7 linked regions of the Homo sapiens genome follow. The protein of the gene in region 2 interacts with the protein of the main gene of each other region in a pairwise test. Each region holds a gene or a part of one and is shown on either strand. Other genes may lie near its edges. The genes, in order: MAP4K4, NME7, TRIM48, PAX4, CCDC33, CCDC136 and TUFT1.

Region 1 (3,500 bases), on a different chromosome or scaffold from region 2:
AGAGTAATCAGCCAACAACCCACCCCCCAAACAAGAAAAAAAAAAAAAATCAGTTCTGTTTGAAAGAGATTCCTGTACAGGATAATAAGTTTGTCCAGATAAGGCCAAGCCTGCTGAACCGAATCTTCCTATATTTTATTTATTGGATAAAAAGAATGAAAAAGGCAGATTCCACAAATGACTATAAGAATTTCATGCCAAATACATAATACCGGTCTGAGGACAGAGCAATCATTTTATTTAGATTTTTAAAAAATAAACTAGATAAAGCCATGCAACTATACTTATCTACAGAACAGTAAACAGTGAACTGGCAAGTTTGGGGGAGCTGATCTAGGGTTAAGGGGTTTATATGCAGATCTGAAACATGTTACTTGGGGTTGGGGAGAAGGGTAGGTGACAGAGAAAGCAGGGTGGGAAGGGAAGGGGTGAGGGTGTTGGAAAGGTCTCCTTTGCAAACTAACTCCTAGGCAGTGCTGGTCTAACCCCAGGAAAGCAGCCAGCTGTGGTGCGAGACATACCTCATTAGCAGTGAGCTTGTCCTGGGGTGTCTGTGGGGACATGGTGGGTGTCGGCTGGCTGGAGGATGGGGAGGAGGAGGTGGAGGAAGTGGAGGAGGAATGGCTTTGCTGTAAGAGATCTGGCAAGAGGTGAATGCGACCGGCAAAGCCATTGCTCTCATGATGGCTGGCACGCTTTTGGTCAACTGTACTCTGTAGAAAAAACAGGCACACTTGTCTCGCTCAAGCGCTGCTAAAATTGCCTATGGCCCTATTGATAACTGCTTTAAGGTGCTGTGTGACTTATAAACTCTGCTAAATTACCAAGGAAAAACCAAAGAAATTAGCCTGAACTGCTCACACTTCCTCACCAAATGCCTAACTTGTGCCAACAGAATTCAAAGTACCTAATCTGGTGGCTGCACGGCTCGAGCAGTGAGTGTTTAATCTGGTTTATCTGTTGCGCTAGCTTCTGTTACCAAAACCAGTATCCTTTTTTTTTTCTTTTTAAATCTTTCTTTGCAAAGCTCCAGAAAGTACCTGTGGATTCTCTGAATCCTGGTCTTTTCCACATTCTTCCTACTTTCCATCCGAATGCATTGCCATAGCATGAAACACACTTAGGGCAAAGTCCAAAATACTAAATAGGTGCCCTGTTCTATTTAAATGAGAAGCGTATCACTTTAATTAAGTCTAAGCTAAGAAATGAACAGACAGTTATAAAGCTTAGTGATCCAAACTGAGCATATCTGGGTGGCACACATTTAATTATTCAACAAGTGAGAAAACTAACATTTTGGAACATAGAAGAGAAACCTCCCGAACCCTTCTGCTCTCCGAGTCTCTGGGCCTGTGATGAGGCTCGTCCTGCCTGCCTCACCCGCTCCCACTGTGGCACTGCAGACACTCAGAGCCCAGCGTGCTCTGCAGAGCCATGGTGGCTGCTCTGCCAGACTCCAGACCTGCTTCCTCACTCTGTGAGCCTGTTTAAGGACTCCCTGTGGCTTCTCTCCCGCTCAGACATAGACTGTGAGACTCAGCGCGGTGCTTGAATGAGGGCTGCCGCAGACATGCAGAGGAGCAGCGATGTGGGGTGGAGACTACTCGCTACCTTCTGGGCATGCAGTACACACCTGCCTCCCTAGCCCCCGACACTCGACACTTGACCCTCTGGGACTTGTTAACATGAAAACAGATGATGATGGAGAAACAGCATGAGTGAGTGAATGAGCAAGTGGGTTAATGACCACAGGAGAAGCTCAGCCTCTGACAACAGAGAAGACACGGGTACCTGGCGGACGATTAGAGTGCCCTCCTTGGATGGGGTCATGGCCGGCTCACTTTCTACATCATCATGGACAATCATGGTTTTCACAGATTCCGTTTCACCATTGCTCAAATTCAGAGATGACCTATGGAGAAAAAATCCAGACGTGAAAGGCCTTAATCTCTGGAGTCAAGGAGATCCTGTTTAGGCTTTTCGCCTTCTCAAAATCAAAACATGAGATGAGGCTACCGATATAAAGCCTCCTCCAAAAAAGCAACTGCTTAGCTTTCTCCCTTTAACAAAGAATTTCTTTCCAGTGCCATTTGTTTCTGAGCAAAAACTTAGAATGAATAATTATGGCTAATTAAAGTAGTTATACCAAACTGAAATTTCCCCTGGATCATATATCCTCAAATCAAAAGGAAAAAATAAAGTACACGCTGGGGTGCTGGGGGAAGCACTGACATATGCACACACCAACGAAGAGAAGGGGAAACACAAGGCGACCTGCTGCTGAATCCACGAGAACTACATAGTAAGTGCTCATGGGGTCACGGAATAGTCTAGGAACAACTAGGTCCCAGTGGAAAGCAGGCTCTGAGAGAATACTCTCATCCGCTCTAAAAGAGACCGGGGACTGACGCTGCTCTGGTGTCCTCTGGTCCTGAGGTGGACTCGTCAGCCCCTTCCTGCTCCACATCGTCGTCCTCCTCATCCGTCGTCCCCGACTCCTCACTGGATGAGGAGTAGTCCGTTACTTTGTGAGGTGGCCGTACATCTTCCACTGCTCGAAGCTCTTTGGCCAGTGCGGTCAGATCCTAAAGCAAAGGACAGAAAAGAGAGAGTAAGGCAAGCAGGAGCAGGGACAGGAGAAGATGAGAAGTTCTTTAACCATAAATTGCCACAATGTCAGTTTTGTAAGACTTTTATAGTTACCCAGTTTCATGAGAAAGTGAGCTCCTATGGCTTTTGATAGAAAAGACCAAATAAAGTCAAGAGAGAGATTAAAAAAAAAAAATAGAAGACACCAAAAAAAAGTCAAAGATGTCATATACAGTTCAAATCCCATGACAATAAAAAAAAGATCTGCTTATGTTAAGCTGATAGTATTACTGTTGTTTTTTAATATGAGGTAAAATTCTAGATCAACAAATGTATATACACAGACTCTTGGACTTTGTTGTAAGGAGATCTCCCTACATGACAAAGTCTTCTTTAGACTCATAAAAAAGGTTTTGAGAGACACATTTTTATTTTACTTCAACTTTTATTATTAAAAACTTCAAAGCGCTAAGGTTTAATATTTAATGTTTTTATTTACTAGTTATAGGATATTTATGAAATTTTAGTAATAAATATTAATATTTTACTAAAATCAACATTTTAGGTTTAATATTTTATTAATAAAAGTTGTAGAAACATAACTTCCCTCCCAAAACTCTTTAAATCAGGCTTATTTAACTAGAGGCTTGCTTTCTGGACTGACCCCTTTAAAGAAGACTTTGTCATATAGACATGTGTCTTTACACCAAAGCTCAAGGATCTGTGTATATACATTTGTTGATCTAGAATTTTACCTCATACTGAAAAAAAAAAAACTTCAAACCTACATTAAAATGAAAGGAGTGAAGTGAGCACTAGGATGCCACTGACATCTCACTTCACCGACTGTTCACAACCTGCCACATTCATGGACAAGTCTGTGACACATGAAGAGACACTGCGACCCTGAG
Region 2 (4,413 bases):
AAGCTCAGTGAATGAAAAATTGCAGAGAAAAAGCAGTAAAGTCAACTAATCTTGTTTTTAATTAGCGTTCTTTCAGTCATTAGCCTCTCTTCTGTGTTCCCACATTCAGTAGGTCTCTATCTTAACACTTGGAAATAACAACAGCAGTAGTAACAGTAATAACAGCAAACATTTTTTGGATGCTTACAGTGTATAAAGCATTGGGCTAAACAGTTTATCATTTAATTATAATAATATCCCTATAAGGGAACTAGTATTATTATTATTATTATTATCCTCATTTTACAAATGAAGAAATTGAATTTCTCTAAGTTAGTATTACAATGTTACAGTGTATCATGTATTTCTCTTCTTCTCTTTTTTCTTCCTCCAAGACTGTGAGCTTTTTAAAAAAGAAATCTAGTCTTGTTCATCTTTGTATCTCATATATATAGCATGTTGCAAGAACCCAAAAGTGGGCAGAAAGATGAGTTCAAGAGCCTCTGCTCTATATCTGAATATAAATGCTTATTATGTCAAGTTTGATTCTAGAAGTGTTCTAATAATGCATGCCACAACCTAGGTGTTAAGGGTATTGGGAGACAAGATAAAATCATCAGGCCAATACTAATTTTTATGTGGAAATGCTAGAAAAAGTGATCATAATATTATAGAAGCCATTCATTCTTTGCATAAAAACTTGAACATTTTTAATTATGAAAAATATTCAGATATCTAAGATAGACAGATATTCACCTTTTAGAGATCTCAGTGCATGCAGTAAAATCCAATAAGGTACCTAAAAGGCAATATGGTTTAACATAAATGATAAAACTGTACTTGCCACTAGATGAAGGGATTTTCAGTTTTTCCAGAGCCGAATTTCTGAGTCTAAGTGGCAAGAAACAGACTGGGTCTGAACGGTCTCATTGTACTTTCACAGTCAAATTACTGAATAATAAAATCTCACATGACCAGCAATAAAAGTAAATGTTCCCAGCTAATCCATTTAAATTGAGTAGATATTCAGGGATCTCACACCTAATACCTGCTAAATACATATCACACATGTTTAGCTGCCCCTATCCACAAAAGTATATGACCATTATTGAAACTGGTCTCAAGACCAATCTCTGCCATTTCCCTCCCTTTTACCAGCTTTTTCTTATTTCCATTAGGAAAATGAATCTATAAGAGAAATTTAGGAAGAGGGAATTTAATATATAAAAGTAAATTTTTCAATAGCCACAAAATTGCATAACACCATTAACCTCAAATATTTATTTTTGAAGGTTGATATTTTAATCTCTTCCATTTTCCTCAACTATCTTCTCATTAGGCAGCAATCTGGTTAATATGAAAATAACACATTTCATATGTATATTACAGTTTATAAATTACTTTCATATTAACTTATTTGATCTTCACAAAAAATGCTTTAAGGTAATCTAAACAGAAAGTATTATTTTGATTTTATGGATGAGAAAATAACTATCCAAAAAGATTACATAACACACAGCTCATAAGTGCTTAAGCCAGGACTGGAATAAAGACTGAAATTTTAGATTTCTAGCTCTACATCAGTTTGTTTGTACTTCAACAAGCTACATCTTGAAAATAAGTACACAAGAGAGGACTGGAAAATCTGTCTACAAATAATAGTTAAAAAAAGGCCAACTTAATATTCTTCACTACAGTCAGACAATAAACCTTGAATTTTAACAATTTATAATAGATGTAAAACAATAATTACAAAGAAATATTGTAGGTAAGTATTAACAGTGCCTTTCATCTATAGAACATACAGTAATTTATATTTCTCTCAATATTCTGAGCAAAGCAGGTGACAGTTTTATTAAAAGTTCAAATCTATTGTTAGACATATGTATGTAATGTATAGAAATACCAGTTTAGAGTTTAGAAGAAACAGGCACCATGGTATACTGCTAGCAGAGTATTCACTGGCAAAACTATTTTGGGAGTAGTCTGGCAATGTATATTGAAAGCCTAAAAATGCACATGACCTCTCGCACCTAGTTATTTCCTTTTTAATTTATTGTAAGGAAATAATTATGGATGTCTATAAAAATGTGTTCGCAAAAATATGTTAGTATTGTGTTAACAGAACAAATTAATAAATGGATTGGTTAAATCAGAGTAAATGAAAGAATAAAACGTAGAGCTGTCCCTCAGTATTTGCAGGGGATTGGTTCCAGGACTCCTACAGATACCAGAATCCTTAGACGCTCAAGTCCCTTACATACAATGATATAGCATTTGCATATAACCTATGCATATCCTCCAGTATATTTTAATTCATCTCTAAATTACTTACAACACGTAATACAATGCAAATGCTATGTAAATACTTGTTATAGTGCTTTGTTTTTATTTGTATTTTTTATCATTGTATTGTTATTTTTTTTTTTCAAATATTTTCAATCCTCAATTGGTTGAATCTGGATGCAGAACCCATGGCTACCCAGGGCTGGCTGTAGTTCTTAAAACTGATCTGGAAAAATGCAAAAGATATATTAAGTGGGATAAAACAGATTTCTAAACAATGAATATAATAGAATCATATTTTAAAGGATATGTATCTCTGTGTGTGTGTGTATATATGTATGAGTATATATGTGACCAGGATATTACACAAAAATATTAATAGCGATTGTATACAGGCAGTGTTATTATAGATAAATGTAATTTTATTACTTTTACTTTTATATTTTCTCATTTCTAAAAATGACTAAGTAATTTTCCTATATTTCTACAACAGAATAAGTTAAATATCTTTATAAACATATATAAAACATATATAGCATATATATGTATCATGTAAATATTGAAACTATGGAAAACAAAGGATAAAAGTTGAATTTACATCTATCAGAGAGCTCTAGAGCCATTATGTGTGCATATGAAGATACATTTTAAAGAGTATAGAAATATGAAGAAGGCACAGCACATAAGATGAGTCAGGAGAGAGAACAACAGCAACTTATTAAGGCAAAGTGTCCAGTATCAGAAAATAAATGTGAATTAAGCAGTACATTTTAATAGCTACAGTTTCTCACATCTAATTAACAGAAAGTTTTAAATATTGACAACTTTGGAAGTGAAGAAGTTTAGGCAGTTTTTGAAAAAAATGTGAATACAAAGTTCATTGGGAATGCTGGAGATACTTCTGGAAAGTAAGATACTTCAATCATATGCTATAGCAGCATCAAGAAAGGTACTAGGTGAAGATCACAGCAGCAAACATAACTCCCATGTTGAAACTATAATGCATACCCATCTGGAATATGTAGCTCTGCTCGCCACACCTTAGAGTAGATATTATAGAAACAAAAAATAAGTCCAGAAATGGGAAAATAAATTATGAAATGGCAACTATAAGGGATGAAATTAGGAGTCTCTGAAGTTCAAAGACAAAAGAAGCTCAGAAAAATATTTCCCAAAGCTTATAAGATCATAAATTTTACAGATAAGATAAAAATAAGCACCAAGAGACCAAATTAATATGGCAAAAGTTTAAGGCAAATCCAAGGAAAATAAAATATTTTGATGGAATAGGTAAAATATATAAGATGTATAATACTACTGCATTTAGAATAAAATCCAAAATCCCTCCCAAGTTCCATAAGTCTCAGTATTCCTGGCTCCTTCCTGCCTCTCAGATCTCTTCTCCTCCAGCTGTCCTCTCATTCCCTAGGCCCCAGCCACACTATCTCCCTCCTGTTCCTCTAATGCACCTCTGTGCTCACTATTGACTCTGCCTGGAATGCTCTTCTCCTAGGTTTCACCTGGCAAGCTGCTTTCTATCATTGACATCTCAGCTTAAAAGTCACATCCTCATGAGGACCGTCCCTGATTGTCCTACTCAAGGCTACTTGCTCTTGGAACCAACCAATATTGCATTACTTAGTTTAATTTTCCTCATAGTACTTATCATCATATGAGGTCATCATTCGTTTATTTATTCATGTAAACTGTTTTTCTCTCAAACTAAGGAAAAAAACAATTAAAGAGTTTTATCATCAAAGAGACTTTCCCTCACCACCCCAGGCTAGTTCAGATCACTCTATTTTATTACTAACTTCCACCTCACCTTGTCATTTTTCTTTTGTAATCCAACTTATACTTGTAATTTATTTTCCAATATCTGTTTTTCTCCATAAATTCCATGAGTTAGGGGCCACTGTGTGCTATCTTATTAATCAATGTATACCCACCAGTTACCAGTATATGGAAAGTACTCAATAAATACTTTCTCGAATAGAAGAATAACTGGTGAATGAGAAAGAATTGGGAATAAAAAGGCAGAAAAAGGAAAGCAAAAATAAATAAAAAGCTACATGAAAAAAATTATGGCATTATATTAACCACTTACTATTCCGTTCTCCAAATACCACTGTTTCCTACTAAACAAGA
Region 3 (5,043 bases), on a different chromosome or scaffold from region 2:
TGAAGCTAAGAAAGCCCAAAAGAGAGTTGCTTAAAGGGACTCAGAGTTGGCTTTACCCAATCTCCAAGAAAATAGGGCCACAGGAATTTCATGTGTCCTTTATAGAAATAGATCTTCAGAGGCATCACTTACCCAGTGTTCCTCAGCAGCCCACTCAGCGGGACAGTGTCTGTGATACCGGTGCTCCTGAGAGCTGGAGCACAGCAAACAGAGCAGGCTCCTGTCCACTTCACAGAACATCTTCTTTGTCTCCCTGTGAATGCCACACATTTGCTCCTCAGAGCTCAGGAATAGCCAGAGACTGGCTTTTCTGGCAAGGGAAGCCATCTTCTTCAATCGAATGTTAGTTTTGAGGTTTCTCTGCTGTATTGTCTTTATGCATTCAAAGCACTGAGTAAGAATTGGGATGTCTTGCCAGTTGAGGTAGAAACAGGGCCTGCAAAAGCTGTGCCCACAGTCTATGGTGACCGGGTCTATGAAGTAGTTCATGCAGATGGGGCAGGTGAGTTCCCTCTGGAAGACTTGCGAGATTCCAGAATTCATGTTTCTGAGGAAGAAAGAGCAGCATGTCATTTTGGGGTCTGGGTTGATGAAAAGCTTCTGAACATGTGGAGATAAGTGATAGCTATAGTTTCTTCTCTTGACAGTGTTCATTAAAGCACAACAAACTATTTCTTCTGTAACAAAAATAAAAATCTCACACAGAGAGTCTCCCGGCTTTATAATAGATATTACTGACTAGATGCCTCACAACCCCTTCTACTCCTAGTGCCTGTCTGTAACATAATACTAATCTATTCAATTTCCCATTTTTTTCTGAATGTGGATCTGGAAATTGGGTTTGATTCTAAGTAGCCTAGAATAAATTGTAGTTGTTCCTATTCTTCTTTCATATGACTGCCGAATGAGTGTGAAAGAGTGGGAAAAACTGTCTTGGCCAAAGAAATACGAGAAGATGGCTAGAGGGTCCTATGATATATTTTGAGAGAGAGACACAACAGTGGGGCAGCAAACCACCATGGCACATGTTTACCTGTGTAACAAGCCTGCATGTCCTGCACGTTTATCTCAGGACTGAAAATAATATAAAATTAAAGTAAAATAAAAAACCAAATCCAAAGCGAAATAGAAAAACCAATCAACCAACCAAATAAACAAATAAAAAACAGCAATTAAACCAATTTAGGTTGAATAGAAGAGAAAAAATCATTAAAGATATCGGACCTTTTTATTTTCTCTTGGATTGAATTAACTTCTCCTAGGGATACCCAAACTCTGAACTAACATATAGTAGGATTTTTGTTAAACTTAAAGAGGTGTAATTATATTTCCATGGTGTGATGGTGAATTTTAGGTATCAGTCTGACTGGATTAACCAACACCCAGGGAAATGGTGCAGCATTGTTTCTGGGTGGGTCTGTGAAGGTGTTTCCGGAGGAGAGAGACATGTGAGTTGGTGAGCTGAGTGGGACCATCATCCCTCAGTTTGAGTGGGTACCATTCAATCAGCTTGTAGCTCAGATAAAAGGAAAAGGCCAGAGGAAAGGCAATTTCCTCTTTCTTTCTCCTGAAGCTGGTTCTGAGGCTTTCAGCCTTGAGATCAGTCAAGATACCAGTATCCTCACTACATCAGCTTAAAGACAGCCTATATTTGGAACTGCTCAGACTCCATAATCAAGCAAACGAATTTTCCTGATGAATTCCCCTCGTGTAGAATCATGTGTAGCTTGAGGACAGATATATGTTCTAAGAAATGTGTAAGGAGGCTTTATTTATTTACTTTCTGAGGTGGGGACTCACTGTGTCACCCAGGCTGGAGTGCAGTGGTGCAATCTCGGCTCACTGCAACCTCCACCTCCTGGGTCAAAGCGAGTCTCCTGCCTTAGCCTCCTGAGTTCCTGGGATTATAGGAACATGCCACTACACCCGGCAAATTTTTTCATTTTTTTTTTTTCCAGTAGAGATGAGGTTTCGCCATGTTGGCCAGGCTGGACTTGAACTCCCGGCCTCAAGTGATCTGCCTGCCACGGCCTCCAAAAGTGCTGGGATTACAGGCATGAGTCACTGCGCCTAGGTTTTATTGTTTTATTGTTTTGACATGATAGAATCTACCTTTACAAACCTAGATGGTATAGCCTGCTACAAACCTATGGTATACAGTACAGCCTATTGCTCCTAGACTACAAAACTGTACAGCGTGTTCTATACTGTATACTCTAGGCAATTGTAACACAGTGGTAATTATTTAGTATGTAAACATTTAAATACAGAAAAGGTGCAGTAAACATACTGGTATTATAATCTTATGTGACCACCATGTGTGGTTTGTTGTTGACTGAAATGGCTCATGAATGTATCTCTACATGTATACATATACACCCTATGATTCTGTCTGTCTGGAGAGCCCTGACTAATATATAAACTATGGTCTTTGGCAATTTTAAGTCCTTTTCGTTACTCTCCTTTATTTGATAACGCTGCTGAATTTTAGTGAAAGCAATGAAAAATCTTAGAATTGTAAATATTCTCCAGAGGTCATCTAAGTCATTGTAAGGAATTTTTCATAGTTTAATAAGATTAAAACTCAAGTGAGATGGCAACCACCATCACATATCAAATTATATCATATATTTATTTGGTCAAAAAATTGTGTTTTGATTTCCAAACTGGGATGTTTTGGGGAGCTTTCTCATTTTTTTCAGTTTCACTATTTTTCATCTCTCATCATTACCTTACTAATTTAAAGTTATGTGTAAATGCTGAATGAATGAATGAACATTCATTAATGTCTTCTCAATTCAATTGTATAATATTAATACACTCATTACACATATATTTACACACACCTATGTGTACATACATGTATAAATATCAACTCCATATATTCATTATGCATACATATCTGTTGCAGCAAACACTAGATATTTTCATTTTTTCAAAACTATATTGAAGAATGATAGAAAATGCAAAATAACAACAATTAATATCCTCATAATTCATAAAATCTATAGTAAGAATATGAATTACAGATGGTATCATTGTGTAGATTTAAGATAATGAGATATTTTTAACACTCTAATTTATTATTTTGTAAAGGAAAGAAGATATAATTTTATCAATATAAGTTTCACTCACCGCTGGGTTCTTTGAAGGGTTCCCACAATGATTCTTCGAGACATAATTCTGTTAAGTACTCCTCAAGGTCAGGAGCTCATTCGCTGCAGTACTGAGTTTCAGAGGTCACCAAAACACAGCTCCCTCTAAGTGCACTCCTTCTCCTTTGGAGAAAACTGAGCTTGTCTCTTCTATGTCCTTTATAAGAATCTGTGAAGACCACACCCACCTCTTTAAGTGGGTGGAGTATTGAGAAAGGTTGAGAATAAGATGATTAGGTTTATGCAGTATTTAGATCACACCTTTGCACGGCTGATTAAATTATCATCACTCCTTAAAAAACCATGACTGAAATGAATCATATGTAACATAAATCCTATCAGATTTGACATACACTGCAAATTAAATAAGATGCATTTTATACTGTTTATTGAGCTTCATCCAAGATACAGGCATTCCTTTAAGGGCACATTTATTTATTCTAGAGAAACTGTCTCCTTGTGGAGTGCAGTGGTATAATCATAGCTCACTGCAGCCTTGAATTCCAAGGCTCAAGGGATCCTCCTTCTTCAGCCTCCCAAGTAGCTAGGACTACAGGCTCAAATCATCCCACCTGGCTAATTTTTTTAAAAACTTTTCATAGAGTCAGGGTATGGCTCTGTAGCCCAGGCTGTTCTCCAACTCCTGTCTTCAAGTGATCCTCTGGTCTTGGACTTCCAAAGTGCTTGGGAGTACAGGCATAAACCACCTCGTCCAGCCTTAAATGCTGCTTTAGTACATTTATAGGATATTGGAAGAGAAGTCCAACAGGAAGGTAAAACTTTTTTTTTTGTTTTCTACCACTCTAAGAGAAATCACTGACTAACCAAATAACTCTACTAATTTGAGGTCTCTTATTGAATTTACAAAACTTTGCCAATCTCGTGGGTGAAATACGAGTTATTATTTTAATGCTTTTCTCCACATGGTGCATGATGTTCTGCCATGACTAGAAATGCAATATAGTAATTAATTTGGGGATTATAAACAAGTTTTAGGACGTAGGCTAATTCACAAATACAGAATCCAAACGATAGGGATGGATTATATTTTTCTTTCTATAACAAATATTTTTGTTGTCATGTGACAATTTAAAAAAGAAAAGAGATTTCAGAAGCGGCTACTCAAATATATTCTGACAGAGGAATTCTTTGCCAATAGCCCCCACAAGACTTATATTCAAGAGTTTCAGAACAGTGAAGACAAATCTGTCAGCCCTATGTCTGTCGAGGTTCAAAAAGTCTGTCAAGGTTCAAAAATCGAAGCAGAACCCATAATATATATGTATACTTAGGGAGATTCACATATGAATTAAGTGCAAGGAACTGGTTTCCACAGTTGATGGGATGCCTGAGCAAGTATGAGATCCCTGTTAAAGTCAGTTAGGAAGAAAAATCCTCAGCTGGCTGGATCCCAGTGATCATGATTCAAAGCTTTGGTCCCAAGTCAGTAGGGGGCAATTGGAAGATTACAGTCCCATTCGCTATTTTAAATGTTGTTCAAGGAATGCCTATGTCTTTCTTTAAGGGACTTTCACTGATGAAGTCAGGCTTACCTGAATACACTTGCTAGTTACAAGAGCAGGACCTTTCATTACCTCTGCAAAATACCTTCCCAGTAGGTCCTACGTGAGTGTTTCATTGAATAATAATAAGAAAGTTTGTCTATGCCACACAGTCCAGTTTCATTCTCCTACATGTGGCTTGCCAATGATCCCAGCACCATTTGTTGAATAGGGTGTCCTCTCCCTACTTTATGTTTTTGTTTGCTTTGTCAAAGATCAGTTGGTTGTAAGTATTTGGGTTCATTTCTGGGTTCTCTATTCTGTTCCACTGGTCTATGTGCCTATTTTTATACCAGTACCATGCTGTTTTGGTGATGAATAAAGGC
Region 4 (5,105 bases), on a different chromosome or scaffold from region 2:
GGAAACAGCCTAGAGCTGGTGTTACCTCCCACAGCAGGTGTCAAGAGCCCAAGACGAGGTGTCAGACCAACGCCAGCGGGTCTCTGCGCTGGCCGCGCCCAGTCCTCTCCAGCTTTACGCACGGGCTTGGCTCGCCCTCTGGTCCCTTGAGGAAGGCAGGGGAACTCCAGCCGCCTTTCCTGAGGACAAGACTTCCCTACAGACACGGGCCTTTCTACCAGGGACTCCTAAGGGCAGAAGAAGCCGGAGATCAGGGCTCTACATCAGGGCGAGGGACAGGCTGGAATGGCCATGGCTGGCCCCGGAGAGGGGCGCACAGCTTGTTGGCGGGTGGCAAGACCTTTGAGTTAATGTATAATTGTGAGCAGATGGCGGGGGCTGGCGGCAGCCCGGGGCCTGGGCCCAGCTAATGAGGGACAATTAGCCCCAAACCCGGTGGGGGTGGCTGAGAGAGTCAGACAGTGAAGGCAGATATTTGCTCCTCAAACAGTCTAGCGCGCTGGGCAGAGGGCTGAGTGGCAGAGCCTTTGGGCTCTCTAGGCCCCCCTGCCAGGGCCCTTTACCACTTTTCCCTCCCCCATCACCTCTGGGTCGAAAGCCTCTGTTTGTTCAGACCCAAGAGCGCGTCATAAAGGCGGAGGGAGAGGGTAGTTTATGGGGTAAATCGCTGCCACCACCATCTGCTAGGGCTTGTCCCTGCTCCCCCTGATACCCCTATCTCCACCCTCATGCAGCTGTCTATAGGAATAGCTGGTCAGGACATAAGCCTTGAGCCCCTAGACGCAGGGGCAGATCTAGCGGGGAGGGATGAGGCAGGAATGGGGGACTAGGAGCAGGGCTACCACAGGCCTTACTGGGGACCTCCTCCCACCCAAGCATGGCTAAGTAGAGTGACCAGCAGTCCCCAGCTGCCCCGGGGATGGAATGGGCTGTAAGGACACTTGGGCAAATGCTATCCTGCCCGAGGTCCTGAAATCACCCTCTGCAGTCTCCCCTGTACCCCAAGACCAGTCTGAGGATGCTGGAGGAGGGTGGAAGAGGAAGAGAGTATGTATCAGGGTAAAGTGGAAAACTCACTTATGTGATATTTGGCCTTTGAGAGCAAGAGTTCCCAACCCTAGGATCAAGCTGAATGCACAACAACCACTTTCACCCCCAAAACCTCAAAACATTTACCAATGACATACGTCTTCCATTCTCTGATTTCTGGGACTAGTCTTATTGCCCTACACCCTGCTTACTTCCAGTCTAACTTTTGCAATGGTTTCACAGACTCTGAGGTGTGGAATGGACCCAAAGACCATCTGCCCAAGACCCTGATGACTGGCAACAAAATTTACATGCACTAGAGGCTGTGTTTCACTTTCAGCATCCCACTCCACAGGCACCACCTGCCCAGCTACTGATACCTCTGACCTCGCCAATGACCCAGATAACCTGTGGTGTCTTTTGTGGAAACAGCAGTGCCATTACTAACTTAGAGTCTAAAAGCATCAAATCCCTAACAGAATGGAGCCTGCTAACATCTAAAGATGGAAGAAGGAAAATCCTGCTGCAAGCCTCCTTATAAACACCCACATGCATCTCTGACTATCCTGAGGCTCATTTCCACCACCACTACCATTGTCAGTGTTCTGAAGTCCAGGATCCTTCCATTTCCAGGCAAGAATTCACCCTTGGTGTCACCTCAGTCAAGGAGTCAATTGGAGAATTGGTTAGGACACTCTCTGGGGACAGCTGGTGCTAGGTGACACACACTCTTCACACTCTTCTCCATTCACTCTCATTATCTCAGAGTGCTAGGAGCCAACTCAGTCAGTATTTAGGCAACAGTCTGTATACTCATTTATCTTTTATAGCAACACACACGACTCAGGAGTTGACCCCAAAGCCCATGTATGTGCATTCTGGCTGGGAAGCTGTGTTGGTGGTTCGGGAAGGCATCTTTTTGCTTCTGTGTATTCAAAGCCTTAAGAACACAACCTGAAGTTCCCCATCTTCCATGCTCAGCATGCCCTTCAGGAGTACTGGTGCTTGTGTGGGTACACTTTTGCCTGTCTGAGAATGGCTCTGTCCCTGCTTCCGGGTGGTAGGTGGACACAAAGTGGGCTCTGAGGATTCCCCATGGAAGGACACAGTGGGTCATTGGCTGTGGTTTGCCCTGCCTCAGGGCTGGTGTCAGTCAGCCCATGCACACCTCCCTCCTCCTCTCTCCTCTGCTCATGGCCTGTGACATCACTGGCTACTCCCAGAAGGCTGCCCTCTGCTCTTGAGCACGGGCTCTCTATAGCTCTGGACCCCCTGGCAGGACTGAAGCAGGAGCAGAGTGGAGGCTGTTACCAAGACCAGATCATCACCACCCCTGGAGCCTGCAGGGGTCTCAGAAGCTGAGACCTCCCACTGAAGCTCCCACCTCATTTCCTCCACACAGGTAGCTCACCTGCAGGCTCATTGTCTGCCCTGCCTCTCATGCTGTCTCCATGCCTCTGTGTGGCCAAACCCAACTTCTCTCCCACTCTGCCTTTGCAGCTACAACCCTCCTGCCCCTTCCACCCCCTTTCCTGTTTTTCCATCTTGCAAGCACCAGTTATTTTTTCAGACATGTTAATATGAATGTTGGGAATGTGTGTTGTGGCTATTGGGAATGGGGTTTCTGTTTGTGAGTTGGGGCATAATGATTTAGGTTTGGAGATTATTTAGGTTTGGATACTGAACCTGCATCCCTACTGCTCTTTTGAATTCTGGTCACTTAGGAGAACTGAGTCCCATCAAGGATTTAGGGTTTGGCTGATATTTTGAGCTCCTTCACCCTGTCTTGGCACAGCCCTTTACAGTCCCTGCTTGATTCTCCTCTCTCCATTGTTTTTGTGGCAATTACACAAACATGAAACAGGGGTGGGAGCAGAGAAAGAGAGCCCAGGATTAGGAGCCAGAAATTGTAGCTTCTGATGAGGAACTGGCTTCTAAACCTTGAATTTTACTCTCTGGACAGCCCCTGACTTGTGGCAATGCCAATCTGTGCCTCAGTTTTCTCTTTGGAAAACCTCTGCCTTCTTTCCCGACTTTTTGGAAAGATGAGAATTTGAAGGGGTCTGTGCCTCTACCTACCTAGAAACAAGTGAGTAAAAGCCAATTTAGCGACTGAACTTAATAAGTAGACTCTGGATTCCAAACTCTTTGTAATTCTTTGTTTCACTGGTGCTAGTCTCTTTTCTCCAGTTGCTCTGTAATGTGTTGGAGAGCAAAGACTTTACCCTTTTCTGTTTACTGCCTTCATCCTGAACAACCAGCAATGTGCTCATGCTTAATATCTTATTCAGCATACAACTGCAGATGAATTAACTAAGCCCAGATGGCACGCTTATTATAAGAAAGTTCTGTGCATAAGCTGTTCCTTGGGGTGATCTCCAGCACTACCAGGGTTCCAGGCATGAAAGGAGGCATCTTCAACTCCCATTGATTACTAATGAAAGTAGAAGAGGTATGGTGGCCTGTGGGACCTGTGTCCCTTGCTGCTCAGAGACTCGCTTGGGCTCATGACGGTTTCTATGTTGCTCAGCGGACAGTCTTCTCCTGCTTCTCATTCCCTTCAATATGCCTTTGATAAATGTTAGTTGAATGAATGAGTGTCTGATACCAGAAACATCGTCTCTGAAATTGAAGCTTCACTGTGAGATCTAGAACTCTTCAGAGAATGAACAGAATGAACAATCTCAGCAGGTTAGAGATGCTAAGAGATGCGTCTCCTAGGAGAAGCCGGCTCTTCAGGCGTGTTCATCTCTATGCCCAGTGTGTAGGACCAGAGCCTCAATGCCTGGTGGGTTAGAGCTGAGTCCCAGTTTCCCTAGAGCTTCCTGGAGAGTATAAAAAAACAGGAGCAAGCCTTTCTGAAGTGCAGCATTTGGGTGGCAGTTTGGAGAGCCCAACCGAGGACTGCCTAATAGTGAAGGTGGACCCCTGAACTTGAGGACCCCAGAATCTCTGGCTCGGGTGTGTCTTCCAGGGCTGAGAAGGCTTAGGAGCAGCTGGAGACAACAGCTGTCCATTTGGAAAGGGGAAAGCTTGAGCATTTGAAAGCATTATCCCTTTCTACCTCCCCAAACTTTTCTAATGAATGTGTAGGAAAGGAGAACCCTCTCAATCCTCCCAGCCCCTTATCAGGACTTCAAGAAAGATCCAGTCCTCAGCCAACCTGCAGTGTTTTAGTTTTTATCACACAAAGGTTTAAATAAAAGGAATTAGAATTTTCTGATTTTAGCCAACCCACTGGCAAATTTTAGGAACCTGACCCTCTATCACAAAACACTACCTCCCAGGACCATTTCAAGCAAAAGACCTCACCCAAATAACCCCCCATTATTGCAGAGCCAGCCCCCAAGCTGGAAAAGGAGCTCCTAGAAGGAACTTCCCTTCCCAGCCTTCCCAGCTGGAGTCTCATCCTTCTGAGGAGGGTCAGCCTGGAGCATGCATCAGGACGGTGAGGAGCCTGGGGGAAGTGGGAAGACAGGGAGGACAACAGAGACAGGGGAAGACCTCAGGGCTTTGCTTCCATCAACTGTTTCATCTGCTATTGGCCAATGTTCTGGGGAAGCTTTTTCCAGTCCCTCCCTTCCTGCCCTGTCCTGCTTCCCTTAGATCAGGAGAGTTGGCGGGTATGGGCAAGGAACAAAGACTCACCCGTGAGCCAGCTCTCAAAGAAAGCAGCTTGCGTTGACAGCCTGGGGGCAGCAAGGATGCAGTCTCCCAGGAGAGGATGCACTCGGTGGTGGGAAGCCAGGCTGGAGGGGCCTGAGTGACCCTCTCCACAGGCGGGCAGGGCAGTGGGAGAGGTGGTGTGTGGATACCTCTGTCTCACGCCCAGGGATCAGCAGCATGAACCAGCTTGGGGGGCTCTTTGTGAATGGCCGGCCCCTGCCTCTGGATACCCGGCAGCAGATTGTGCGGCTAGCAGTCAGTGGAATGCGGCCCTGTGACATCTCACGGATCCTTAAGGTAATGGGCCAGCACCTTTACCCAGTGATGGGGACAGGAAGCAGGGAGAAAGGGCTCCTCTGAAGGCAAGAGCCTGGGGCTGTTGCAGGCTCTGAGGGCTTCTGGGACTTGGG
Region 5 (4,071 bases), on a different chromosome or scaffold from region 2:
CTGTGGCAGTGTGAGCTTGGGAAACCATAAGGTATTGAGGAAGAAACCAGTCAGGCCTGAGTTCAGACTGAGCTCCCGAGGCAGAGCGTCAGACCTGGGCCGAACCCTCTTCTGGAAGTTCAGAACAGGGTCTGGCATGTGCTTTTTTCACAGCTGTTTCCCACACAGATTTTGAGAATACGAAGTTTTGACACAACATTTTTTTTAATGTAAAATGCATTAGGGAGCCCCCTATAATTAACGCACTGGGAGTCTTTGAGTGAAGTGAAGAACCTGTGAGGCAGTTGACCTCATCCCTCACACTTTACCTGGATGTCCATGAGTCAGGTGTGCTTTCAACAGAACTCACCTCCGGCGAGTCCTGGGATGGAGAGAAAACTCTCCTGTGCCCCTGCCCTGCCCAATATTCTGTGATTCCAAATGTTCTGCTTTGGGGTTTATGTAAAGCAAGGGGCCCCTGAAGCATCTTCAGAGGTGGAGCAGGGCCTGGGCATTTCTGGGCCCTGGGCCACCCACCTGTGCGGGCAGGGTCTCTGTGCACTCTGAGTGGCCTGGGCCATGCGTCTCTTGTAGCCTCTCTGTCAAGTCTCCTCCTGCTCCCAACTCCCCGGGGTCCACCTGGGATGGAAAAGGGCTCTCCAAGGCTGCACCAAGACCAGGGAATGCTCCAGAAGGGAGTTTTGAGAGGCCTGTGTAGGGTCCAGGTGGAGGCCAGCCAGGTGAAAAAGGGGTCAGGGTTCAGGGACCAAGGGTCAACAAGGGGCTTGCTTTCTCCTGGGATGCTAGATGAGGTTAAAGGTGAAGTGTTCGGGGACACACATTCCGCAGGAGAAAAAGACCAAGGCCTGAGAGCTGATTCCAGGAGCCCCCAGGCAGACTGGAGACCCTGGGAAGCTTAGCTCCTGGTCTTGATCTTCAACTTGGGTTGTACCATGGGTGATTTCTGGGCACCCAGTGACCGGCATAGGCAGGCCCAGGTCAAGGGCCTCTTACCGGCAGGGCCTGTTGCTGCAGAATGATGGGGGCCTGCTGGTGGCGGTTCTTATCCAGCTCCGTCCGCAGCTTCGCGTTTTCTGCCAGCAGCACCGAGTAAAGTTCAACCGGCAGGTTCTCTCCCATAGAACCCAAGGGAAGGCCAGAGGCTGAGAGCATAGGGAAGCCTAGAGACACGGCCACAGATGTTGGTGAGATGGGCTCTCCTGCTTCCCATGTCCCTGTCCTGATCTGCTCCAGCATTTTGCTTCAATCTGCCACCCCTCCCCTCTACTCCCAAGCCTTCAATGGCTCCCTACCACCAGTGGGATCAGGTGCACACAGGCTGTCCTTCTAGGCTCTTTAGAACCTGACCTCAACGTTCTCTCTAACTCCTCATTTGTCTTCAGTGTATTTCAGCTCCTCACCTCTCTCTCTTCCTCCCTTCTCTGATCCTGGAATTCTTCTCACTCCCTGGGCCTTTGATCTGGCTGTTTCCCCTCCCTAGGTTGCCTTCTCAGTCTCATCCAGACTCCTGGATGACCTCAGGCTTCCTGAAAGGCCAGCCCAGCTTTCATTGCATTCTAAAGGCTCCTAGAAACACCCTCCTGCCCCTGAGACCCTCAGCGGTGAAGGCTAAGCACAGGGCTGGGCACACAGGGGCCCTGGGTGAGGTTGCACAGGCAGGCTCAGGGAAATCCCTTGCTTTGGGCTGGCCTGATATGGTGTTACCTGGTCCTTTCTGCTTATCAGAGGCTGATTGGCAGTTTTAGGTGGCTTTTGGTTAATATCGATGGGGAAGAAAACCTCCAAATCATTTATTTATTTATTTATTTTGAGGCGGAGTCTCCCTCTGTCACCCAGGCCGGAGTACAGTGGCACAATCTTGGCTCACAGCAACCTCTGCCTCCTGGGCTCAAGTGATTCTCCTGCCTCAGCCTCCCAAGTAGCTGGGATTATAGGTGCCCGCCACCATGCCCAGCTAATTTTTGTATTTTTAGTAGAGATGGGGTTTCACCATGTTGGCCAGGCTGGTCTTGAACTCCTGACCTCAAGTGATCTGCCCTCCTCGGCCTCCCAAAGTGCTGGGATTACAGGCATGAACCATTGCGCCTGGCCCCAGATCATTGATTTAATCAAAGTATTTTTGTTTGTTTGCTTTGCAGAGGCAGAATCTTTGGCGGTATGGGGAAATAATTCGACGGATCCTGGGGCTAGGAGCTGGGAAGTGTTGCCCCAGGTGGCCCTTCTTCAGGGGAAGGCCCTCTCTGCTGTGCTAGTCTGCAGGGCCCTCCTCTGGAGGTCCACCCTCTTTCTAGCCTGGCTCACACTGCATCCCAATTGTGTTCTGAGGGGCTTCCAGGGAAGGAGGGAGCTCAGGGGATCTCTGGATGGGGCGCCTGAATGAGGAGGGGAGCAGGGCAATCCTGGGTCTCCCAGGCCCACAGACATAACTGAGTGCAGGGGACCTCTTCGCAGGTTCTCCTGAAGCTGAGAGGCTCCAGGAAGGCAGGGCCTCCAGGGGTGGAGCAGAAGCTGGGGAGCTGATCACATCAGGGTGTGGACCCACCCGTGTAGGGCTTTCCCTGCTGCCTGTTCAGAGGAGGGGGCTTGCTCCTGTCCTGCAGCCTGTCCTCCAGCACCCGCTCCATCTTCTCGATCACCTGGAGAGCAGAGCAGAGGCTGGGCTGGCCCAGGGGCTCCCTACTCTGCCATCATCAGTTGGCCTCGGGGGCAGCCCCTCTGCCACCTGCCTTCTCTTGGTGCCGCACAGTCTCCTCCAGCGCCTTCATCTTCTGCAGCTTGCCCTGGTACTGCTTCAGCAGAGCGGCCTGTGGCTGCTGGGCCTGATACAGAAGGAGCAGCTCCTTCTCTCGATCATTCTTCTGTGAGATGGGGGAGGAGAGAAGGGGAGAGAATGGGTGCCTGGGAGTCCACCTTGGCCCTGAGGGTCCACCTCGGCCCCTCTGCTGAATCCTCCACCAGGCTGGTCCCCCTTTCTTCCGTGCTTCCATTCCCTCTGTGCCTGTTCTCCCTTCTCCTCCCAGACTCTTCTCACCCCGATGCTCCCCCACCATAGCTCCCTCCCCTCTGCCCCCACAAGCCCCAGCTCACTCGAATCAGCTCATTCTGCAAATGCTGCACCCTGTCCCTCAGTTTCTTCATATCCAGCTCACTCAGCAGCAGTTTCTGCTTCATGGACACTGTTAGGTGGGTTGGGGAGCTGGCTCAGGGAGGAAGCCTCTCCCAGCTCAAATCAGCATGGTCAGTAGCAGGAAGGCAGATATCCCTTGGCCCGAGGGCTTGGGACGGGACTGGATTCTCTGTTTCCCATCCCTGAGAGGACCCAGCTGGGCAGGGACTGTGTGAGTGTCTGTGGGCGAGGGGCTCCTATTTGCCAGAGTCCAGCAGCATGCACATCTGGGAGAAGCTCCCAGCCACCCTATTGCACAACCTGGAGCCTGGGCCCAGGCAGAAGCCCGGGTGCCCTTGGTGGCCTGCACATCCTCACCCGTGTTCTGGGCCTCACTGGCTTTGCCCTGCCCCTCTTCCTCCTCCTGCTGGGCCAGGCGGCTCCTCAGTATGCGGTTCTCTCCTTCCAGGATGCTGGCCTGTCTCCGCAGAGACAGGATGTCCTCTGCCATCTTCTGCATGGCCCGCCGGTAGTTGTTCATCTCCTGTGGATCCCAGAGCCCAGAGCTGAGCCCACTGCCCCATAGCAACCCTGGTCCCACATCCACATCTACACTTGAAAGTCAGTGGGTCCCCCACAAGGCCAGTGAGCACCAGGAGCCCCAAGCCATGGCCCTAAGTCTTAGCAGCTCCCTGGAAGGGTGGTTATGACTTGATCCTCACCCATCCTGGCCATGTGAGGGCAGCCACACTAATGTTCTCTCCCCGGGGCCACATCACGTCCTGTGATACCAACTCAGGGGGAAACCCCAGGTGTGGACACAGGGGAGGAGGCCTATGGGCAATGGAGACTTGAGAAGATCCAGGGCCAGGTTTGCAGGGTCTGGCTCGATCATAGCTATTTCTTCACCTTTTCCCTCCTCCTTCCCCATCTTCTAACTCCTCTCATTCCTCACGTCACTGAGA
Region 6 (4,245 bases), on a different chromosome or scaffold from region 2:
GCTACCACAGTATACACTCTGTACATGTGTTTCTTTGGATGTTTGATTGAATGGAACAAAGTCCTTTTGGGTGGGAGGGAGGAAGAAAGAGGGGTCCAAAGAAAGCCAGGAGTCATGGGGTCATTGTTTCCACTATGGTTTAAGAATATGCTTGGGGCTGGGCAATATGCCTCATGCCTGTAATCCCAGCACTTTGGGCAGGCTGAGGCAGGAGGATTGCTTGAGCCCAGGAATTTGAGACCAGCCTGGGCAAAATGGTGAAACTCTGTCTCTACAGAAAATATAAAAATTAGCTGGGCATGGTGGTGTATGCCTGTGGTCCCAGCTACTTGGGAGGCTGAAGTGGGAGGCACTTGAGCTCAGGAGGTGGAGGTTGCAGTGAGCCAAGATGGTGCCACTGCACTCCAGCCTGGGTGACAGAGTGAGACCCTGTCTCAAAAAAAAAAAAAGAAAAAGAAAAAAAGAAAGAAATAAAAAGAATACGCTTGGGGTCTTCTTTCGTAAGGAAACATTCATGATGATAAACTCCAATCACAAAGGTTCCACAGGAATGAAGGTAAACAGGAACACACATAAACTATCCTCATCATTCTACTTGTCCCAATTAGATCCATCTTCAGGCCTCTGTCCTGCTCTAAGCTCCAGGAGGCTGAGCTTGAAAGATTACATCACCTGGGCACCTCTGCGCTTTGTCTTCCCATTGAGTTCAGCTGATAAGGTACCAGTAGAATACTGGCAGGTGGGAGGAGAAGGTAGGGGAATATATATCCCACTTCCTCACGGCTCTGGCGGGGGCTGCACCCCATGTGGCTGCCACTCCTGCCTGGGGCCCATTTTCAGAGCTCCAGCTCTTGCTTCCTTTCCTTCCTGCTTCAGCCTGGGATGCTAACAGCTTTACACTGTTGCTAGTGCCTGGTACTTCACTATTTTTTGTTGCTTCTCCTAACTCTGCCTTTGGTACATAGTCTCTTCATTAAACTCTCTTCATGTAAAGCTTTGAGTGTGCCACCTGTTTACTGCCAGGACCCTGGCTGATTAAAGTCATCTCTGAGGGCGAATCCCTTGAGAAGTCACAAAGGCTAAGTCACGAAGGCACACACGTGGATCTTCTTAGGGCGGCCTTCTCATGTAGATAGGTGTGGGCACAGAACCTTAGGGGAGGTCTCCCCAGCCCTCAGTCACTCCATTTCTCCATGCTCAGGAGAGCACCTCAGGATGGGGTTAATAAGCACAGACTAACCCCTCTGTGAGTCAGTCGACAGCACAAGGGGCTAGCCTCATTTCTGAGGCCATCTGCAAGGTGAGAAGCCGCATTTAGGAGTCAGACCCTTATGTGAGGTACTTGGTTAAAGGGGGACTGCTCTGTTCTGGTTGTGTTGTGAGGCATTTAGCAAATAAAAATCCACAGTCTCATGTAATTCAGTTGATATTTAATTACAAGGAACTCAGGTTCTTACACAAGGCAGGAGATGGAAGTCAGCCGCTCCCCACAAGCCTTTTCAGCCTGGGTGACTGAGGCTGAGGAGATGGGGACACATGGAACATATGGGGAGGGTTCTGGCACAGTGTGTCCTGCCCAAAGCTGAGGGTGGTGGCCACTGGGGATCTGCCCTCGCGCTGGCCAAGGTCTGCCATCACTCCATGAGGCAGAACTCTGACTCCTGCTGTCGCATGTTGGGTAACACATACAGAGCCACAGCTGCAATAGCCAAGAATACCATAGGCTTCCACAACCCAAACATGTTCTGTGGGGACCAAAGAGAAACTGTGAGTGCCCAGCCTCCTGAACCCTGCCCTAAGCCAGAAGTCACCTGCCTATGGGTGCCCAAGACACCTCAGGAACATTGTGGATCAGTCTCTGTTACCTCCTGGGTAACCGGTGGAGGTAAGTGATCTCTCAGTCCTGGCACCACTAGACATGTGGCCCAACACTGTACGCACCACCTTAGGTGACCGCCTGTATTCAGGCCTCCGTTTCTCCCCATGGGCTGAGAATACTAGCTCCCATGTGAAGAAGCAGGCTCAGGGGCCAGACTTCCAAGTGGTTGCAATGAGAAAGGACTGGATGCCATGGCAAGAAAGAGGAGGGGAAATCTGGGGCTTTGAGAAAAGCAGCAGCACCTCATTAGTTTCACTGCAGTGAAGTGAACTCAGAGTCAAGAGGATGGGGAAGGGGGAATAAGGCTGAGGGGAAATGAAGAAAGTGCACCACGGAGTGCAGGTAAGTAGGAGGTTCTTAGGCAGACAAACTTTGACAGAGAATGACATTGGTTCAAGGAAATTTAAGGAAACCTGTCACTGGGCCTAGGTCATTAGAACACTCCTAATCACCAGGTATGTTGACTGACTTCCTGGTGCATGTGCTAGAGTATGCTGAGGCTTCCAGACACTGCCGGCCACTAGGGAACCCTGCTGATTCATGGGACAAGTGGCACCATCGAAGATATCCAAAAAGCATCCATTAGGTAATATGAAAATCTTAGACAAGAAAATACATACTTGGGGAAATAGGTTTTATTTTTATTACTTTTTTACTCTACTAACTGAAAGGTAGAATTTGGATTTTGAGTCATAAGCTATGGCATAGGTAACAGAAGGATGGTTTCAAGTAAAAATGGAATATAGCCCATTAATGCTAAGAACACATTTTCTCAGATGATAATTGATCTAAAAAGAGGACTTTAAGCCTGCTAAAGAGCAAAGAAAATCTCCTGAGCTTATAGAAATAGCTACTAAGAACAACAGAAGGTATGAAATGGAAAGCCAAGCAATGTTACAGGTGGATATACAGAGTAACTCATGTAAGAAAACCAAGAGATCCGGAGGCTGAGGGAGGAGGATCGCTTGAGACCGGGAGTTCAAAGTTACAGTGAGCCATGATCATGCCGCTGCACTCTAGCCTCGGTGACAGAGCGAGACCCTGTCTCTAAAACCAAAAACAAAAACTAAGAAGGGAGCTAGCTAGAAAAAAATATTTATATGCTCAGATGCCTCTATCCTAATGTGCATTGCTAAGAATGTTAGTCTGGTGTTCTTAAAGGAGGGAGGAGCTGAAATCCTTAAATGTGACCCGTGCACCTCACACTGGGCAAAGGCAAGCTTCTACATGGGATGGGGAAAGGGCTGGTGTGGGTGTCCCAAAGGGGAAGTCGTGTCAAACTCTCCTTTTAAACTAGGTGACCTAAGTGACAAATCACCGGAATCATGTTTTTGGACGTTGAGTTGTTTGACAGAATTTTCTATGATCTTTGCAGATAATATGCAGAAATAAGGGTAGGATGACAGTACAGTTTGTTGAATGGCAGGTAAGTGACCAATGAGCTGAATAAAAGAACCCCAAGAGACGACACTCTAGAGGCTCTGTCCTCACTCTGTCCTCTGTAGATGAAGACAGGGAAGGAGGGCTTGCCACCCCTGTAGATGATGTGAAGGTGGCAGAGGAAGTGAATATTTTAAAACCACAGGGTCAAGATTAAAAACACATACACACAAAACCTTATAAGGTAAGAACAATGAACTATAATAGGGAAGAATGGAAAATTCTGCCTTTGAAGCCTCAAAATCAAATGCAGGTACAGAATGGGGAGAGGACGCTTAGCATACACAATCTGCAGAGGGGCTTATAAAAAATACATGAAATAAATAAATAATATATTAGTTACCTAAAGAGCTAATGTGATCTGAGGTTGCCTAAACACAAGTATGGTGTCTTCCTACTTGGGACCAATGAAGAGAAACTGCTCAAAATGAGGAGAGACAATAAAGGGAAGCAAGACTGGAATCTTATTTGTTGCTAATATTGAGTCCTTATAATCTGACTCGCAGCTTCCTGGCTGTTTTACTTAACTTCTCTATGCCTTAGTTTAATCATATATAAAAAAAAATAGGAGTAGCTTCTTCATGGGGTTGTTGCAAGGATTAAATCAGTTAATATACGTAAGTGATTAGAACAGTGCCTGACACATAAGACTGCATTTTGTAAGTGCGTGCTCTTTTTATTAATGATGGGGTATTTTATAATTTATAGAATACTTTCATCTACTTCAACCCATCTGGTCCTGACAAAAACCTGTGAGGAGGGCAGAGGTTCGATCATCCTTTGCTTACATTTGAAGAAACTAGAGCTCAGAGTGTGCATTTTGCTCCCTGGGACAACGCCTGTCAGTAGAGACAGACTCAACCAAGTTCTTCTGACCGCCTGGCAGCCACGCTTTCTACCACACTGTGCTCCCTCAGGTCCTGGCT
Region 7 (4,413 bases), about 18 Mb from region 2:
CCAAGGCAGGTGGATCACGAGGTCAGGAGATCGAGACCATCCTGGCTAACACAGTGAAACCCCGTCTCTACTAAAAAATACAAAAACAAAATCAGCCTGGCGTGGTGGCAGGCGCCTGTAGTCCCAGCTACTCGGGAGGCTGAGGCAGCAGAATGGCGTGAACCCGGGAGGCGGAGCTTGTAGTGAGCCAAGATTGTGCCACTGCACTCCAGCCTGGGTGACAGAGCAAGACTCCGTCTCAAACACTCACACACACACACACACACACACACACACACACACACACACACACACAATACTTTGCAGGGAAAATTAAAAACCTGAAAGGAAAAACGTGGTAGGAGGGAAAAGTAAGGGCCTGTAGATTGGGAAGATGATAACGTTGAGAGAAGGCTAACAAGGCAGAGTAAATCACCTGCACTATGCATGGAAGTGAATGAGGGGCTTAGCCACTATGGATCTCTGGTTCCCACTGGAAAAATAAGGAAGTTGGACCAAGTATATCTCAGGCTCCTTCTGGATTCCATTCTGTGACAGCGTGAGGATGGAGTATATGCCTCTCCCAGACAATGAAGAGAAATAGGTGCTGGGCTATCCAAGAATGAAAGTGATCTTGAGGTCATCTGGTCATCCCCTGCCTTGAGGCCCAGCTGCATAAATGACATCTTACTGGTAACAGGTTTTAAGGAACCCTCTTAACCTTCCAAATGTCTAGAGAAGATAACGTTCCAACTTGGTGGAGAAGAAATCAGTCTTTGGTGAGATACTTAACTCTTGATGTTTTTATCTGTAAAAGGGGTATATTACCATCCAACTGAGGGTTTTTTGTTTGTTTGAGATGGAGTCTTGCTCTTGTCTCCCAGGCTGGAGTGCAGTGACACGATCTTGGCTCACTGCAGCCTCCGTCTCCTGGGCTCAAGCAATTCTCCTGCCTCAGCCTCCCAAGTAGCTGGGATTACAGGCATCTGCCACCACACCTGGCTAATTTTTGTATTTTTAGTAGAGACGGGGTTTCGCCACATTGGCCAGGCTGGTCTCGAACTCCTGACTTTGTGATCCTCCCGCCTCAGCCTCCCAAAGCGCTGGGATTACAGGCGTGAGCCACCGCACCCGGCCCCCAACTGAGGGTTTTTTTGTTGAATATTACTTAAAAATATTGCCGGTGTGCTGGCTCATGCCTGTAATCCCAGCACTTTGGGAGGCCGAGGTGGGAGGATCACCTGAGGTCAGGAGTTCGAGACCAGCCTGGCCAACATGGTGAAACCCCATCTCTACCAAAAATACAAAAAAATTAGCCAGGCGTGGTGGTGGGCGCCTGTAATCCCAGCTGCTCAGGAGACTGAGGCAGGAGAATCGCTTGAACCAGGGAGGCGGAGGTTAAAGTGAGCTGAGATCGCGCCACTGCACTCCAGCCTGGACGACAGAGTGAGATGCTGTCTCAAAAAGAAAAAGAAAATGAGAAAATGTATGGAGGTTACTCTCTGCCACACAGGAGGGTGGCACTGAAACATCAGCATCCTCCCACTTTTTGGATTGGGAAGACAGAAGACACTGTCACAATGGCCCTTAAACCTTCCCAACCCTAGCAAAGTAGCTGGTTTTATGAAAACACTTAATTCCTATGAAATAAAAGCCACATCCTTAGAGTGGCATGCAAGGCTTTCCACAGTCTGGGTAAACTCACACCTCTTGCTACCATCTCTCAGTGCCCTATCCAATACATTCCATGGTTTCCAACTTCAGTGCCTTTGCTCCCATCATTTCCTGTGCCTTAAATATCTATTCTTCCCATTTTCACCTAAGGCGTCTCCAAGTTCCTCAAGTTCATGTTCAAATGCCTCATCTTCCAAGATGCTACCCCGCATCCTGTGGGAAACACATCTTCCCCTCCTTGAGCTCCCACAGCGTCACAAGGCCTCCCATGGCATCTGCCTCTCAGTTATTTGTGTTTTGTGAAGAATTACCCCTTCTGTTAACTCCTCAAGAGCTGTTGTATGCCACAGCCCTTAGCAAAGGTATTTTCTGAATGCACAGAGAATGCTCCATGACATCTAGGTCAAGAAAATATTACAAAAGAAAAAAGAGGAAATGATTTCAAAATAGCCAGAATGGCTGCCAAATTCTTCCTTCCCAGGACATACCTGCACTTTTATTAAAACAGTATCTCGACCAGGGGCAGTGGCTCATGCCTGTAAACCCAGCACTTTAGGAGGCCAAGGTGGGTGGATCACCTGAGGTCAGGAGTTTGAGACCAGCCTGGCCAACATGGTGAAACCCCGTCTCTACTGAAAATATAAAACTCAGCTGGCTGTGGTGGCAGGCACCTGTAATCCCAGCTACTAGGGAGGCTGAGGCAGGAGAATCGCTTGAACCTAGGAGGTGGAGGTTCCAGGGAGCCAAGATCATACCACTGCACTCCCGCCTGGGCAACAGAGCAAGACTCCGTCTCAAAAAGAAAAAAAAAAAAAAAGGACACTATCTCCCCATAGTGTTCTATGGAGGCAGGCTGGGAAAAGGCAGGGCATCCTTCAGTCAGAACAAAGGGGTTATTAGCTAATGAAGGTCAAGTCTGGTCTGTTTCATAAACCTACGCATTCCAATTGGAAGAGCATAGACAACTAGGCTGGGTTGGGGCACTGAGAGATGATTCCATCCAGCCATCAGAATTCCAGGTAGAGAGGAGAAAGAGGGTCAGTTGAAAATGTTCTCAAAGAAATAATGACCAAAAATTTTCAAAATTTGGCAAAAGACACAAATCTATAGATTCAAGAAGCCAAGCAAACTTCAAACAGAATAAACATGAAATTCATGCCATGATAGATCATAATTAAATTTCTGATAACTAAAGACAAAGAAAAAGTCTTGAAAGCAGAGAAAATAACCTTTGAGGGGATCCCTCAAAGGTTATTTTCTCTTCGGAAATGACAGAGAGTAGAAGGAAGTGGCATACTATTTTTCAAATGCTGAAAGAGAAGAACGGTCAATTCAGAATTGACAAAGGAAAATATCCTGTAACAAAGGAAAATATCCTTCAGAAATGAGGGGGAAATCAAGACATTCTCAGATGAAGGAAAACTAAGAGAATTTCTCACCAGCAGACCTACACTAAAAGAATGGCTTAAAAAGTTCTCTAAACAGAAAGGAAATTATTTTTTAAAAAAAGGAAACTTGAAATAATGGGAAGAAAGAAACATGAGTTGAAAAAAGATGGGTAAATACAACAAGATTTCCTTCCCCTCTTAGGTTTTCTTTTTTTTTTTTTAAGTTTTTTTGCTGTAAGTTTATTCAATGCAAAATAATCCTCTCCAATTTTACTGAGGTGGCTGACCACATCCTCAACCAAATCCACCTCTAAACTGGAATTCGGTTGCTGACCCAGCCCCAGCCTCAGCTTTGCTGTCGGCACCAGGCGGCACAGCACTCCGTCTGTAGGTTATCTCTGTCCGCTTTCCCTCTTGTGAGTCTTGCAGGTCGCTCACCCTTCAGACCTTTAGGCTGAGGACTTCCAGTCTCTGGACGGCTGCAGCATAGAGTGGCAGGCACAATCTCCGGGGCAGATGAAGGTAATCACGGAGATACTGGATGCCCTCATTGGTAACGTACCAGTGGAAATGTCTCCAGGCAAACTGTTCCTTCACGTAGCCTCGGGACTTGAGAGGCTGCATGGCCTTCATGACATGAAGATTGGGCACATCCTTGTCTGCCAGCTCCCGGTGCTTAGGCATGTGGACATCCTTCTTGGCCACCATGACTCCCTCCTTAAAAAGGAGTTCATAAATGGCAATCCGGTTCTTAGGCATCAACATCTCGGTGGCTGTAGGGGCCGGGGCTGGGGCTGGAAAGCCCCTCTTAGGTTTTCTAAGTTACATTTGATGATTAAAGCAAAAAGTATAACAATGTCTGATGTGGTTCTAAATGTATGCAGAGAAAATATTTAAATATGATAATATTATACTATTAAATATTTAGTATCATAAATGGGAGAAGGTAAAGGGATGTAAAGGAAGGAAAGGTTTCTCTTCTTCACTCAAACTAGTAAAATGCCAACACCAGGAGACTGTGATAACCTATGTATACATAATGTATAATACCTAGAGTAACCACTAAAAAGTCTATACAAAGAGATAACACTCAAAAACATTATAAATGAATAAAAATGGAATCCTAAAAAGTGTTCAGTTAATCCACAGGAAGGCAGGAAAAAGAAAACAGATAAATGAAAAACAGAACCGGGCATCATAGCTCACATCTGTAATCTCAGCATTTTGTTTGGTTTTTGAGACTAATTCTGTTTCTGTCACCCAGGCTGGAGTACAGTGACGCAATCTCGGCTCACTGCAACCTCTGCCTCCCAGGTTCAAGCAATTCTCCTACCTCAGCCTCCCACGTAACTGAACTGGGATTACAAGCTCC

What was found.
Region 1: the proteins of NME7 (region 2) and MAP4K4 interact in a two-hybrid assay, tested with the Homo sapiens proteins (one large-scale study listed by BioGRID and IntAct).
Region 3: the proteins of NME7 (region 2) and TRIM48 interact in binary tests that used the Homo sapiens proteins (3 or more experiments, as listed by UniProt).
Region 4: the proteins of NME7 (region 2) and PAX4 interact in a two-hybrid assay, tested with the Homo sapiens proteins (one large-scale study listed by BioGRID).
Region 5: the proteins of NME7 (region 2) and CCDC33 interact in a two-hybrid assay, tested with the Homo sapiens proteins (one large-scale study listed by BioGRID).
Region 6: the proteins of NME7 (region 2) and CCDC136 interact in a two-hybrid assay, tested with the Homo sapiens proteins (one large-scale study listed by BioGRID).
Region 7: the proteins of NME7 (region 2) and TUFT1 interact in a two-hybrid assay, tested with the Homo sapiens proteins (one large-scale study listed by BioGRID and IntAct).

The regions. Positions count from the first base shown.
Region 1 is NC_000002.12:101,868,707-101,872,206, reverse strand, and holds part of MAP4K4 (mitogen-activated protein kinase kinase kinase kinase 4), read right to left. Parts: intron 2,586-3,500; coding exon 2,410-2,585; intron 1,913-2,409; coding exon 1,792-1,912; intron 714-1,791; coding exon 522-713; intron 1-521.
Region 2 is NC_000001.11:169,356,885-169,361,297, forward strand, and holds part of NME7 (nucleoside diphosphate kinase homolog 7), read right to left. Parts: intron 1-4,413. UniProt on the Homo sapiens protein: Possesses an intrinsic kinase activity. Displays 3'-5' exonuclease activity with a preference for single-stranded DNA. Does not seem to have nucleoside diphosphate kinase activity.
Region 3 is NC_000011.10:55,260,404-55,265,446, reverse strand, and holds the start of TRIM48 (E3 ubiquitin-protein ligase TRIM48), read right to left. Parts: upstream 3,293-5,043; 5' UTR 3,180-3,292; coding exon 3,136-3,179; intron 548-3,135; coding exon 133-547; intron 1-132. UniProt on the Homo sapiens protein: E3 ubiquitin-protein ligase which promotes K48-linked polyubiquitination of protein methyltransferase PRMT1, leading to PRMT1 degradation.
Region 4 is NC_000007.14:127,615,288-127,620,392, reverse strand, and holds the start of PAX4 (paired box protein Pax-4), read left to right. Parts: upstream 1-2,250; 5' UTR 2,251-2,431; intron 2,432-2,992; 5' UTR 2,993-3,118; intron 3,119-4,365; 5' UTR 4,366-4,464; coding exon 4,465-4,477; intron 4,478-4,861; coding exon 4,862-4,992; intron 4,993-5,105.
Region 5 is NC_000015.10:74,329,768-74,333,838, reverse strand, and holds part of CCDC33 (coiled-coil domain-containing protein 33), read right to left. Parts: intron 3,651-4,071; coding exon 3,485-3,650; intron 3,177-3,484; coding exon 3,088-3,176; intron 2,859-3,087; coding exon 2,727-2,858; intron 2,637-2,726; coding exon 2,543-2,636; intron 1,161-2,542; coding exon 994-1,160; intron 619-993; coding exon of another isoform or gene 517-618; intron 1-516.
Region 6 is NC_000007.14:128,819,299-128,823,543, reverse strand, and holds the end of CCDC136 (coiled-coil domain-containing protein 136), read right to left. Parts: coding exon of another isoform or gene 4,233-4,245; exon of another isoform or gene 2,500-4,232; intron 1,746-2,499; coding exon of another isoform or gene 1,454-1,745; 3' UTR 1,414-1,453; downstream 1-1,413. UniProt on the Homo sapiens protein: May play a role in acrosome formation in spermatogenesis and in fertilization.
Region 7 is NC_000001.11:151,556,839-151,561,251, reverse strand, and holds part of TUFT1 (tuftelin), read right to left. Parts: intron 3,844-4,413; exon of another isoform or gene 3,261-3,843; intron 1-3,260. UniProt on the Homo sapiens protein: Involved in the structural organization of the epidermis. Involved in the mineralization and structural organization of enamel.